2 separate regions of the Homo sapiens genome follow, and region 2 is linked to region 1. A link means that fine-mapping ties the variant in region 1 to the expression of a gene that starts in the linked region. Tissue or cell type: whole blood. Region 1 holds a variant in brackets; the other region holds the start of a gene. All regions are shown on one strand. Distances are between the middles of the regions.

Region 1 (2,683 bases):
TTACTGAAATCAACCAAATATTTCCTATGTCAGTGTCTCCATGAATAGTACCTGATCTTTCTATTAAGTTAATACAGAGGAAATTTAATTATCAAGTCCTTAAAAAACATATTCACAGGGAGATCAACTTATAGTCCTTTATATGAAATAGAAACACTCTCTTGCTTTCCTTTTGGTTAAGGTAGGAAGATAATAAATCACAGTGGCTTGGGTTTGAATACTGGTTTATTTGCTAGCTGTATGACCTTGCAAATGATTTAAACAATACTGCTGAGTCCTCATGTGTAAGTTGGAGAAAACAGTACATCCCAACAAAGTTGTTGGAGGATTATGCCTGAACATGTGAAAAACTACTAGTATTGTGCTTAACATATAGTAGTTGCTTAATAAATGATAGCCATATTCTCAGTGCACACTTAAGATCACACCCTAATTGGACCAGTAATCACATTTCATCTATTTAGTTGGAAAAGTAGTAAACTGTGTCTTTATGCCATTTTGTGTGTGTGGGTGTGTGTTTTGGTAGAGAACGGGGTTTTGCCTTGTTGCCCAGGCTGGTCTCGAACTCCTGAGCTCAAGTGATCTGCCCCTTGGCCTCCCAAATGCTGGGATTACAGGCGTAGGCTGCCGCACCCAGCTAATAATATGCTATTTCAAGTGCATTTAGAGAAGAGTGTTGATGAACCATGGAATGATTATTCTTTTTTTCTTTCCTCTTTTGTTTTTAAATCACAGGGCACCTCGATTTAAAGATTTCCAGCAACAGGACAGTCAGGAGCTTCTTCATTATCTTCTGGATGCAGTGAGGACAGAAGAAACAAAGGTCAGGTTTCTTTATGTATATCATGTATTCTCTTCAAGAAGAGGATACAAAACTAAGGGATTATTGGGGGGCCAAGGCGGGGTGGATCATCTGAGGTCAGGAGTTTCAGACCAGCCTAGCCAACATAGTGAAACCTCGTCTCTAATAAAAATTAGCCGCGCATGGTGGTGCATACCTGTAATTCCAGCTACTTGGCAGGCTGAGACATGAGAATTGCTTGAACCCAGGAAGCAGAGGTTGCAGTGAGCGGAGATCCCGCTACTGCACTACTCCAGCCTGGGTGACAGAGTGAGACTCTGTCTCAAAAAACAAACAAACAAAAAAACAACTAAGTAAGTAATTTCTATTACAATTTAAAAGTACAGTTGAGAAATAATTTAATTTTTTAGAGTAAATATTCTAGATATTTTTTCTTTCTTCTGTAAGATATTTACCTTTATCCTTTTACAGCCCTATTGTCCTTTTTAGTTAATGTCCTTTGGCTGTAAATAAAATAATTTAAACTAGCTTAAGTAAAAAGGAATTGGGGCCAGGCATGGTGGCTCATGCCTGTAATCCCAACACTTTGGAAGGCTGAGGCAGGTGGATCACCTGAGGTCAGGAGTTCAAGATCAGCCTGGGAAACATGCTGAAACCCTGTCTCTACTAAAAATACAAAAATTAGCCAGGTGTGGTAGCGTGTGCCTGTAATCCTAGCTACTTGGGAGGCTGAGGCAGGAGAATACTTGAACCCCAAGGGTGGAGGTTGCAGTGAGCCGAGATCGTGCCACTGCACTCCAGCCTGGGTGACGGAGTGAAACGCTGTAAAAAAAAAAAAAAAAAAA[AG/G]GAATCTTAAGATGCAGGGAGATATTATTCCTGGGCGATAGGGGGATATAGGAACAGGAAAGCTGTCAGGAATCCAGAAAGCATTCTTCTTATTATCCTAGTTTCTCTGGCTCTGTAAATTTTCTTCATTTTTCTCCATGCAGACCAAGCAGTATTTGTATGTCATAGTTCCATGTATGTAAAAACTATACTGGCTATTCATGATTCTCAATTTTTAAATTCCCAGTAGACAGAAACTTCATTATTCCATGTTGGATTAAATTCCACTCATGGATCAGTTGTTTGTGGCTAGGAGAGAGGAGTCCCAGCCTCTTAGATGAGAGAGCATTTCTCAGAAAAGGAATAGCCTGTGGACTGGATAGATTCCCCAGTGTTGATTGTAGGCCTATCCCCTAACTGATAGGCTCTTTATTGACTTTAACGTTAAATTAGTTAAATTCAACTTCTTCTGGGAGGGGTTTCCTGTGCACATAGGATCAGTTTATCAGAGAAAATGCAAGATATTAAGGATATCAGATACACAGCACACATTCTCCATTTTCCTCCCTCTTACTCATAGAAGACATTGCTGATCGTTCCTAACAGTCCAGGTGAGTTTGGGTTCAGCCTCAGAATTATTTTCTGAGCACACCATTGTGGGCAGCCCTTGTCAGTCATAATTGGAGTAATAGGTGAAAACCTGTTTTCCATTCAAGGCAAATATACTTCTTAATCTATATGGTAATATGTAATAAAAGCAGCCAAGTGTTCAGTGAAGTGCATATGTGCTTGTGATAAGTAGTGCTAGGCAAGATGGACCTTCCTTTTTTAAAAAAAATTCTGCCAGATATGGTGGCTCATGCCTGTAATCCCAGCACTCTGGGAGGCCAAGGTGGGCGGATCACTTGAGCTCAGGAATTTCAGACCAGCCTGGCCAATATAGTGAAACCATGTGTCTACTAAAAACACAAAAATTAGCCAGGCGTGGTGGTGCACACCTGTAATCCCAGCTTCTTGGGTGGCTGAGGCATGAGAATTGCTTGAACCCGAGAGGCG
Region 2 (2,683 bases), 40 kb before region 1:
ATGTTTGTTAAATGAATGGTCCTTGTTAAGTACGATATAAGCAAATATCAACCTTCTTTGCCAAGTTCTCCACATGTAAATACTGTTAGAAGAGTTTTTAAAGAAAAATTTAGTGTTTGCAATTTTAACTCTCGTATCTTCTGATTTCTACGCCAATGCTCTTATCCTTAAAGCCACATTTGTCCCTTGGCTGAAGAGTTGTGAAAGATCAGGAGACTTTTAGAACCTATCCATAACCAGTGTTGGCATTTGCAATATCCATGATTGAAACAAAATATTTTCAAACCAACTACTTTTACTAAACATGCAATGTGCTGGCCACTTCAACAGATAACCGGGCTTTGAGGAGGTATAGGTGTATTTCAAGAAATGTACTATCTAGCTAGGAAGAGAGAAGGATAGGTAAGACAACAGCAATGGGGGAAAAACCACAATAATATATGACGAATGTTAGATGTGACTTTAAGAGTTCAGGGGGCGGCGGGGGTGTGGGGGCGGAGCCGGGCGCGGTGGCTCAAGCCTGTGATCCCAGCACTTTGGGAGGCCGGGGCGGGCGGATCACAAGGTCAGGAGATCGAGACCATCCTGGCTAACACGGTGAAACCCCGTCTCTACTAAACAAAATACAAAAAATTAGCCGGGCGTGATGGCGGGCGCCTGTAGTCCCAGCTACTCGGGAGGCTAAGGCAGTAGAATGGCGTGAACCCGGTAGGCGGAGGTTGCAGTGAGCCGAGATCTTGCCATTGCACTGCAGCCTGGGCGACAGAGCGAGACTCCGTCTCAAAAAAAAAAAAAAAAAAAAAAGAGTTCAGAGGAGGGTAACGGAGGGAAATCGGAGGCTGTTTCAGAAGGTGCCCAGCAACAAGTGGGACTTAAGCCGGACTCCTGCAACATCCGAGGTGCGCACGCTGGCCCAGGATCCTAACAAATTGCTAGTCGGTGGCTATGAGTCTTAGATTATCAGGGACTCTCCGGGCTCTGCGGACACGCAGAACGCAGGCGCCACGCAAGCCGGCCCCGCCCTTTCACCCCTCCCCGCGCTCCCGGGCCCCGGGCGCGCCGCCTGGAACCCTCCCGGTCCTGGCTGGGGGCGGGCGAACGAGGCCCCACCTCTGCCGGGAGCGGGACGAGCGCGCAGGCGCAGTCTCCCCAGGTTGTAGACGCTGCGGCCCGGCCCGGCGGGGTGAGTTGAGAACGCGGCGCTTTGGTCGCAGCGGCGGTATGGTCGCCGCAGTTTCTCGGTCTTCGCTTCGGCGACCTTGACCCCCTTGTGGGTGGGCGAGGCTGGAAGAGAGGCTCCCCACCCCACTCGGCTTCCTGATCCCTGGGGGCGCCGGGCGGTCACCGAGGGCCGTGTGAGCGCCGCTCTGCCGGCTCCGGGTCCATGCGGCTGCGGGAGAAGCCCTGGGCGTCGGGGCTGGCCTGGGAGGGGCCCGAGTCCCCTGGTGACCTGGGCGCGCGGCGGCCCCACACCTTTCCGTCCGCCTCATCGCGGCGCATTTCTCTTCACATCCTCGGGGTGTGTGTGTGTTGGTGACCGGAGGAAGCCTGTCTAATGACTTTTCTGGAAGCGTCGTGTATTAGGAGCTCCGGGGCCGGACTGCTTGGGTCCGCATCTCCATCCACCGCTTACTGGCTTTGGGACCTCTGCAAGTCACTTCACTTCTCTTTCTCAGTTTCAAGTGTAAAATGCGGAAAATAATAGCAACTTATCTCCTAAGGTGGTTGTGAGGGTTGCGTGGGTTAATATTTGTGAAGTGCTTAGAACTGAGCGTGATACACAGCAAAACCATAAGTGCTGCTCATCTTTTTGAGCTTGGTATATAAAAGGAGATAGTGACCTTTTCTTCTCTTTCCAACCCCCATAAATAATTGCCCAAGAGTAGGAAAAAAGGATTTTTTTTTCTTAAGGATATGGGCTTTTTGCATAGCCTGTTTAAAAACAAAGCTTTCTAAACAACTTAGTTGCACATCCTACTTTAGAGAAAAGACAAGTGTTAAGTGATGGTGACTTGAAAACTGTAAAGTTTATTGTTTGGAAAACCGCATGAGAAAAATGGCCAGAACATATTTGTGCTAAAAAGAGTTAACATAGCAGGCCTTAAGACTGCTATCCTTAGAAAGGACTGCTTGCAATGTTGGTGCTTGTTTGGCATCTGGGAACTTAGATTTTTGGGTTTGTGCTGAACAGTATGTTTTATGCCGAAATTACCAGCTTCTGTAAAAATCCGGGACACCAAGTCTTTAATGGGCTTCCCTGCGCGGAAACTGCTGCATTTTCACTGATGGAGGAAGGATGTGTTTTGTTTGACCCCTCTTGGGAGGGAGACCGCATAAGGAGCCTACACGTGATTCCTCCAGACTCCGCTTGTGTCTTTTTCTATTATGATGAGCCTTTATATCCATACTGCATTGTGTAATAAATGTCAGCCATGAATTCAACTATATGTTGAGTCCCGTGCATCCTATCAAAGCTCTAAATGTGGGGGAGATCACGGAGATCCTCAGCCACAGTTTTGTAAATTTGTATAAAGGTAAGGGATATAAGTGCCGTTTTTTTACGAGGATATATTTCCTAGTGGTACTGGGCTTTTAGTGTAACCATCACCTGAATAATGTACATTGTGTCCATTAAGCAATTTCTCATTCCTCACCCCACTCCCATCCTTCCCAGTCTCCAGTG

What was found. PIP is the estimated chance that this variant, and not a neighbour inherited with it, causes the effect.
Region 2: USP45 starts here. The variant in region 1 is fine-mapped to the expression of USP45 in whole blood (INTERVAL, PIP above 0.99). The same link has a PIP of 0.9 or more in activated CD8 T cells.

What each region holds. Positions count from the first base shown.
Region 1 is chr6:99,474,283-99,476,965 of GRCh38, reverse strand. It overlaps USP45 (ubiquitin specific peptidase 45), which reads left to right. Exons shown (of 18, transcript NM_001346022.3): 9 at 736-823. Among named protein-coding and RNA genes, the nearest start is that of USP45, 40 kb to the left of the region's middle. The variant AG/G (reference allele first, on the strand shown) is at 1,648.
Region 2 is chr6:99,513,892-99,516,574 of GRCh38, reverse strand. It overlaps USP45 (ubiquitin specific peptidase 45), which reads left to right and starts at 1,152. Exons shown (of 18, transcript NM_001346022.3): 1 at 1,152-1,183. RefSeq lists silencers at 365-584, 895-1,264, 1,315-1,414 and enhancers at 331-1,236, 1,237-2,144.